3 separate regions of the Homo sapiens genome follow, and regions 2 and 3 are each linked to region 1. Evidence: fine-mapped expression QTL. A gene starts in region 1. Each other region holds a variant in brackets. All regions are shown on one strand. Distances are from middle to middle.

Region 1 (2,763 bases):
CCTTGCTTTGGACAACATCCATGTAATAAGTAGTGAGATTTTTTCCTTTTAATGTCACCAATATGTTTATGATTAAAGGTCAGTCTGTGGCAACAGTTTGCATCTCTGCGCTATAATTACTTGTTCTGCTAAAAAATAAAAAAATAAAATAAAATAAAATCCTGACTTATGACCTGACCAGACAATTCTTTGCATCTCCTTTTATCAGATTTCTGCTGGATGAGGAATGACCTAGGCAAGAGTATTTAATTTATAGTCAAAATCCACATGTGTGCCCTGCCTCCTGCAAAGCATTGGGACACCATAGGGTAGGGAGAGAAGTCCTTTGCTATGGAACAACTGCTCCAAAAGTAACCTAAAGTGCAGAACTAGCGATGGGGCGGGGTGCATTTATTTTGACCTAAACTGGGATTCTGGTCTTTGAAGCCCGCGAGTGGGCTCATTTCCTAGAGGGAGAAAAGGGGAAGCGACAAGAAAGACTCCACCCAGGCGATCCCAGGCAGGCGCCTTGTGTATAAATCCAGGGAGAGAGGGGCACCAGGTGGCCAATGGATGAGAAGTCACCCGGCTGGGTACGCAGGTGGCCAGGGGATGGCAGATGGGCCAAAGCGGGGCGGAGGCGGCCCTGGGCGGATCAGGGGGTGGGTGGCTGAGGGATATGTGTGCGGAGGAGGTGGGCTGTCCTCCCACCCACCGGTCTCCCGACCAGCGAGCAAGCTTTGGACAAGGCCAAAGAGCATTGGGCTGCTGGAAGCTGGGGCATCGGCGCAGCCTTCGGTAAGGGGCTCTGGTCGACCCCACTCCCTGGGCTTGCATCTGTCCACTGATCAGTGGGCAGGTCCTGCCTCTGCTTCCTCCCAGCCACCCCCGCCGCGCCATCAATTCCTCAGGGAACCGGCTCCTCTCTCAGTGCCCGGGCCAAGGCGCCCGGGGTAGCGGGCGGGCGAGGGTCTGCAGGGGCCCGGCCACTTACCCGAGTGCAGGCCGCCCGCTTCGGGGCCGCTGTCCGGGGCGGCGGCGCTGGGCGGCGCGTCCGAGTCGGTGTAGGTGAGCCAGGTGGATTCTGTCTCCCGGGTCCAGCTCTCGTAGTAGCGGGGCTCGATGGCATCCGCCCGGCTCCCGCCGCAGCCCATCCTCCTGCGCCGCGGGAGCGCCCAGCGGCTGCTCGGCTGTCGGCTCTGGCGGCGGCTCAGCCCCGGAGGCGCAGCCCCGGCCCGCAAGGAGGCGGCGGCGGCGACATCGCGTCCCCGCTCCCGCCCGCGCTGCAGCCGCGCGGAGCTCCTGCGGTGCCCGCCGCCCCTAGTCCGGGCCCTCTCCCAGCCCGTCCCTCCTCTCCGCCTCCAAGGCCCTCCCTCCCCTCCGGTCCCCACCGCCCAGTCCTCCCTCCCAGCGCCCTGGCCGCCCCAAGGCCCCCGCTCGCCCGCCCCCTCCCTCAGGGCTCCGTGACGGCCCGGGAGCAGGAGCAGCGGCCCCGCAGCCGGAGGAGGGCTGGGGCTCCCGAGGCGCTCGGACCCGTCTGGCCGGCATTACCGTTCCCAGTCTCTGGCCCATCTATCCATCCATCCATCCATCCATCCATCCATCCGCTCACCCGCTCATTCATTCATCCATCCATCCATCCTTCCTTCCTTCTTTCCATCCATCCTGGAAAGAACTGAAACTCTTATCACGGGACCCCAGGCTTTCTGGCCACCTGTTACAAAAGCAATGGAACTGGGAGCAACCCCGCAAAACTGGTCAGGGAGTATTGCCACTAAGACTTAAGGAACAGTCAGAGCCTATGCCTGTCGTATCTGATTTGGGGAGGCAGGAGTAGGGCTATGATTTTTAAGAGAGTTAGGCTAGGCAGTGTCACTTACACCCCTTCCAGCTGTGGTACTTCATGATCCTCTGAACTTTAAACTCGAGAAAGCAATAGATCACCTGGAACCACGCAGCATCCTGAACCCCCTCTCTGGGCAAGGCTTGGAGGCATGGCCGGTCCCTTCAAGCCCAGGGTGGCCTTGACATTCCCGGGATCCAGTTGTCAGCCTTTCTTTTCTCGGTGCACCCTCAGGTCCATGCGGGTTCAGACCTAGAGCTCAGACTTGCGTAGGCCAATGAATTTACCTGTTCCAAGAATCCAGAACAGGTGGTGAAAGATGAAAATCTTCTTAGCCTTCAAGAGGGGGGTAGGAAAGGGAAGGGTTTGGAAGAATAACTCTTCAATGACCAAGCTCTGCTAGAATATGGTATTAAGTATCATATTCATTCATTCATTCATTCAATGTATATTTACTAAATTCCTATTGTGGCAAAAGACTGTTCTAGTAGACATAATACATATATAATATATTTTGTATATTATCCATTGTATGTAGACTATAGGGTGTGATGTTTAATATAGCATGTAAAGCATAGAGAATATAGTACTCATTATATCCTATATAATTTATAGAATGTACGAGAGTACATTGTCTATAACATTTAGCACGTAGCATCCAATAGGTAGGGCAAGTTCAGAGCATTGCCTGGCACAGAGTAGGCCCTCAGTAAATGTCCAGTGAATTAATAATGAAGTATCTTTTTATAGTAATTTGATTCACTTAAATTATTGTAATTTGGGCTAAAGATGATCCAGTTGAGGGTAGAGCTGTCAGACATTCCTCTGGCAGGCACTCACCAGAATCCATAATGTGGAAGGGAGCAAAGATTCATGGAACTGTGGCCAGGGTCTCCTCCTCCTCATGCTGAGCGCAGCACCCGTTCGCACCCCAGGACTCA
Region 2 (2,763 bases), 38 kb before region 1:
TTACCCAGTTGTTCTCTTCTTCCTGGAACTCTAGTTGTCTTAATTTCTCCATCTCAGAATTGCATTCCTCCCACTCGCCCACCCTGTCCTATCTTTGGCCTGATCTCTTGGCTATAAATCTGCTCCTTTCTTCCACTTGTTCTTCACAGCTCCCCATTTCTGCACTCCCCCTGCTTATCATTGTCTTCTGGGCCTCCCAGTAATCCCAGAACCTGGCCCAGGCCTGCACTGTGGGCAGATTCACTTTTGGGCCTCACATTCCCTCTGCGCCAGGAACAACAACTTCCCTCTGCAATGAGTACAACCACCTCTCTTTGATCATGGAGCTGGGAACTCTGGTCCTCATCAGACTCCCTTAGGGCTTATCCCTGAGACTCTAAGGCCATCACAGCCTTCATCCTCAGCCTGCACTACTGAATATCCCTCCCACAGTAATTATTTGCCTACATCCTTATCTCCCCAGGAAGACCATCAGTGCCTCAAGAGCAGGACCTCGTGTTAGCCATCACCTGGCTGTGAGCCCAGCGCAGGGCCTGGCACATAATTGGTACCCACAAAGTTTTAAAGACTTCATAGTGACTGCTTCACATCCATTTGGAAGAAGACAGGATTGAATTGGACACACCCACATGAACTAGCTATGTGACTTTAGCCGAGCCATCTCCACTGGTATTCCTCAGCTGGGAAACAAGGAGGGTGAAGCAGGCCTAGAAAATCTCTAAGGATCCTGTTCTGCTAAAAGTCTGTGACTCCGCATAGAGCACATTGTGCTTCTATTCAGCACAGTGACCCTCCAAATGGTAGTTTTATTTGTGAAGAACAATTATCCAGAGATTGGGATAATGCAGAAAAGATGATTAACGTTATGCTAGGAGCACTTCCCAACAAGCTCACCTAAAGGTGTTCTGGGGCTCCTACCCAGCATGACTTTACCCCCAGTGGACATGTGGAGATGTTTCAGCTGTAGAGGCCACACATGCTACTAAACATCCTACAGTGCCCACGACAGCACCCCCAACAAAGAATTATTTGGGCCCAAAATTTCCATAGTGCTGGAGGCATTGAGAGATCCTGGCCTAGAGCGTGCAACTTGGTTTGCACATTTGATTAGGGCCAAACAGTTTACAATTCTGAGAACTGATCATGCATGATGAGTTTCTTTTCTGTCTGATAGAGAAGAGAACCCCAAAGACTATGGGTTTGGGTTTTGTGGAATTTTTTTGTTTTTGTTTTGTCCTTTAGGATGTAACTAGTTTTGTATTTAATTTAGCAATCTTATCTCAGCTTTCCTTCTTTCCACCAACTATTTTTAAAAGTTTCTCATATTCCCTTTTGTTCTGAGCCATTTATTTATTTTGTTTTTAAATTAACTTTTTTTTTTTTTTTGAGACAGAGTCTC[A/G]CTCTGTATCCCAGGCTGGAGTGCAGTGGTGCAATCTTGGCTCACTGCAACCTCTGCCTCCTGGGTCCCAGTTCAAGCAATTCTCTTGCCTCAGCCTCCTGAGTAGCTGGGATTACAGGCACACGCCACCATACCCAGCTAATTTTTGTATTTTTAGTAGAGACAGGGTTTCACCATGTTGGCCAGGCTGGTCTTGAACTTCTGACCTTGTGATCCGCCCACCTCAGCCTCCCAAAGTGCTGGGATTACAGGCGTGAGTCACTGTGCCCAGCCTAAATTAAACTTTTTATTTCAAAATCATCTATAGATTGTTGTAAGAAATCGTACAGAGTGATCTGTGTGCTCTTTTCTAATTTCCCCCAATGGTAACATCTTACAGAATTGTAGTACAAGATCCTATCCAGGGTACTGACATTGGTACAATCCACCCGTCCTATTTAGATTTCCCCAGGTTTAATTTGTACTCATTTGTATATTTGTACTTAATCCTATATGATTTTATTACATGTGCACTTTTACTTATCCACCACTGCAACCAAGATACAGAACAGCTCCATCACCACAAGGATTCTTCATGTCGCCCTTCTGTTAATCACATTCTCATATTCTCTTTTGAGCTGACTTTATCATCCAGCTGTGACCCTCATCAATGAGTTAAAAAGATAGTGATACCTGCTCACTATTTATTTGTATGATAATTAAGTTTTTAACATTTTGAGAAATATACTTTGATATAGTCCTCTGCTTTTTAATGAAACTACCTATTAAGTAGCAACTTGATAGCTGAGCTCCAATGACAAGACCAGATGGTTCCTAATTTCCCCACCAGAGATTATATTAATGAAAACCATCACTCTACATGCTAGGAACACACAGTGATCTTGAGCAAGCAGCCTAACTTCTATGTGATTTAGTTCCTTCTTCTCTAAAATAATAGCTCTGATTTTAAGGAATTTGTGGAGGATTCAACTAGTTAATATACACAAAGCTCTTAGAATAGTGCATGGCACATATAAATTACAATAAATTTTACGGTATATTATTTTATTTAATGTCCACATCAATCCTATGAGGTAAGAACTCTTGTTACCCTAACACAACAGATAAGAAAACTAGGACTGAGAAAGTTCAAGTAATTTTCCCAAGGTCTCAGCCTAGTAAGAGGTAAAGCAACAATTAGAACTCTAGTCTCTGTGATTCCAAGCACCACCTTGCCCTATTTACTGTGAGAAACTGGAATTTTGTGAGAAATGGAAATGCTGTACTCAGAGTAAAAACCAGAAACTGCGGTCCTAGGGGAACACAGACTGCCAAGACGGTGGGGAATTTTGCATGGGATAGGTGGCTATCTAGAGAAGAAGAAG
Region 3 (2,763 bases), 60 kb after region 1:
AGAATAAAAGACTTACTCAGATACTATAAGAGCTTAAGGAGGGTAGAGGGGTTTACAAAGTTAATCATACATGGCAGGAAGAACTGCTTGTATGTGTCTGTGTCTATATCTTGTTTTTATTACGTCCATTGAGATGAATCAATTAGCACCAAATGATTTTATGTGAGTAAAGAATATTCCATTTAAGCGCAGCTACGATCTAGCTGACTGTGTCAAGGCATTGACAGCCATGTTGGATCACAGCACCCTCCAAAATTAAAAAATACCAAATGCATGACCCCACAGTTCCATGTCATCTTGTGCTAGTTAGTCATTAGTCACTGAGATGTCTTATTTAGGGGGAACAAATGAGTGGTTTCAAATCTATGGCCCTGAAGTAAGAACCAGATGCTAGGTATAGTTTCAAGTCTAGAAGCCCCTAGGTTTTATGGGCCCAAAGCAAGAAGGACATTTCCTGAGTAGGTTGCTGGTTTCTCAAAGCTTGGTGGTAAAGAAATCCTATTGGAAGTGATAAGCATGTTGTTAAGGATTGATGTGACTTGATGTGACTTAATGTGCCATGCACAATCAATGATATTATGTCCTATGTAAAAGAAAGGAATTAATGTACTGGACAATATCCAAGTGTTGAATCTATTTTATGTAATCTTGCAATATAACATGCTGTGCACTCTAATTAGTGCAATTTATGTGCGCATATGCATGGGGAATGGACCTTAATGCACAATAAAACATTTATGTAAAATCAAGCATACATAGCACTAGTACATTATTAATGGGGCAAGGCACGTAATGCAGGTGGAGGGCCTCTTTGGAGGTTAAAAAGAATAAAGAATGTGGAGGAAAATGAAAAGATAGATAGTTCCTCAAATGAGAGGGACATAGGGGTCAGAGAAAAGGGCTGTCTTTTTTTTTTTTTTTGAGACAGGGTCTGGTTCTGTCACCCAGGCTGGAGTGCAGTGATGTGATCCTGGCTCACTGCAGCCTCAACCTCCTGGGCTCAAACCATCCTCCTGTCTCAGCCTCTTGAGTAGCTGAGACTACAGGTGTGCACCACTACGCCTGGCTAATTTTTTTTTTTAATAGAGATGGGGTCTCACTATGTTACTCAGACTGGTCTTGAACTCCTGGGCTCAAGCAATCCTCCCACCTCAGCCTCCCAAAGTGCTAAGATTATAGATGTGAGCCACTGTGCCTGTGAGAGGTGTTTTCTTAATGAAAGAAACAGAACTGTTTATATAATGCAAATAAAAAGGAGAGAATTAAACAGAAAATAGCAGAAAATCATAGGAGCAAACAAAGCGCCAAAGGCCTGTGTGCAGAGGGACGGGTGCTGGGCTGAAGATCAGAGCAGAGTGTGGCATGCAGAAGGGGCAGGGCATGCTGGCTGGAAGAGTACACACCCTCCCAGCACGAGGAGGACCCAGCATGGGGAAGTCTGGGGCATTTAGCACGTGGCACAGTGCC[C/T]AGCACCCAGCACCCAGTGGGCTCCCATGACTACCAAGACCAACTGCTTCAAATTAAATCCCAGTCTTACCATACAGTAGCTGTGTGACCTTAGCAAGGTAAACAACCTCTCCTATCTGGGAAGAGGCCAGATCTTAAGCAAAGCACAAAAGAGCTGGAGTTTTGGAAAGGGACCCTGTGAAAAGGGGAGAAGATTTGGAACAATTCTTGTGAAGAATGGGAGACAGATGACCAGAGACCAGTAAAAAGAATGCACACAAAATGTGGTAAACAGGCATCAGAATGGTATAAATGTAAAAATAATGCCATGGTTAGGAATTGAGATTTCAGTCCCTTTTTTTTTAAATTTGGGTTTAATTTCTGTATATATCAAACAACAAATAACCCAAAGGCCAGGATCGGGGCCTGTTGTAACTGAGAAAGCAAGAGCTGCCTGAGATGTTCATTTTATGCATCAAGTTGACAGGGCCTCAAGGTGCCCAGATGGTCAGTCAAACATTATTCTGGGTGTTTTTGTGAGGGTGTGTTAGTCCGTTTTCAGGCTGCTGATAAAGACATACCCAAGACTAAGCAATTTACAAAAGAAAGAGATTTAATGAACTCACAGTTCCATGTGGCTGGAGAGGCCTCACAATCATGGTGGAGGGTGAAAGGTACATCTCATATGGCAGCAGACAAGAAGAATGAGAGCCAAGTGAAAGGGGTTTCCCCTTATAAAGCCATCAGACCTTGTGAGACTTATTCACTACCATGAGAACAGTATGGTGGAAACCACCTCCATGATTCAATTATCTCCCACTGAGTCCCTCCCACAGCACGAAGGAATTATGGAAGCTACAATTCAAGATGAGATTTGGGTGGGGTCACAGCCCAGCCATATCAGTGTTTTACATGAAATTAACATTTAAATTAGTAGTTGTCTTGAGTAAAGCAGACATAATGTGGGTGGGCCTCACCCAATCAGTTGAAGGGCTGAATAGAATAAAAGACTGACCCTGGTAAGACTGAACTCTCCTGCCTGATGCCTTTGCACTGGGACATCAGCTCTTCTGGGTTCTACAGCAGCTTCCAGCTTTCAGACTCAAACCAGGACATCTACTCAGCAGATTTTGGAGTTGCCAGCCTCTGTAATCATGTGAGCCAGTTTCTTATAATAAACCTCTTCATATACTAGTTCTTGTCTTTGGAGAACTCAGAACTCTGAACTCTTGTCTTTAGAGAACTAACACACTGCCTGACTGCGTGATTTTATCATTTATTGCCCTCAACCTCAGAAAGAATTTGAAATAGCTGCTT

Which allele goes with the higher level. Positions count from the first base shown, and alleles are read on the strand shown. Sizes are in standard deviations (SD) of each study's normalised expression. Not every link is listed here.
As copies of T replace C in region 3, the expression in monocytes after Pam3CSK4 of the gene that starts at base 1,306 in region 1 goes down (moderate effect, 0.73 SD a copy in Quach 2016).

Evidence for each region.
Region 2: its variant is fine-mapped to the expression of BAALC in cerebellum (GTEx, PIP above 0.99).
Region 3: its variant is fine-mapped to the expression of BAALC in monocytes after Pam3CSK4 (Quach 2016, PIP 0.95). The same link has a PIP of 0.9 or more in monocytes.

Annotation. Positions count from the first base shown.
Region 1 is chr8:103,139,268-103,142,030 of GRCh38, reverse strand. It overlaps BAALC (BAALC binder of MAP3K1 and KLF4), which reads right to left and starts at 1,306. Exons shown (of 3, transcript NM_024812.3): 1 at 974-1,306. The coding sequence starts at 1,133. It overlaps LINC01181 (long intergenic non-protein coding RNA 1181), which reads right to left. Exons shown (of 6, transcript NR_145429.1): 5 at 2,663-2,763; 6 at 1,676-2,158. It overlaps BAALC-AS2 (BAALC antisense RNA 2), which reads left to right and starts at 689. Exons shown (of 2, transcript NR_027071.1): 1 at 689-777. RefSeq lists a silencer at 1,081-1,270.
Region 2 is chr8:103,177,486-103,180,248 of GRCh38, reverse strand. All of the region lies in intron 1 of BAALC (BAALC binder of MAP3K1 and KLF4), which reads right to left. Among named protein-coding and RNA genes, the nearest start is that of BAALC-AS1, 6.7 kb to the right of the region's middle. The variant A/G (reference allele first, on the strand shown) is at 1,400.
Region 3 is chr8:103,079,646-103,082,408 of GRCh38, reverse strand. No RefSeq gene overlaps it. Among named protein-coding and RNA genes, the nearest start is that of LINC01181, 40 kb to the left of the region's middle. The variant C/T (reference allele first, on the strand shown) is at 1,468.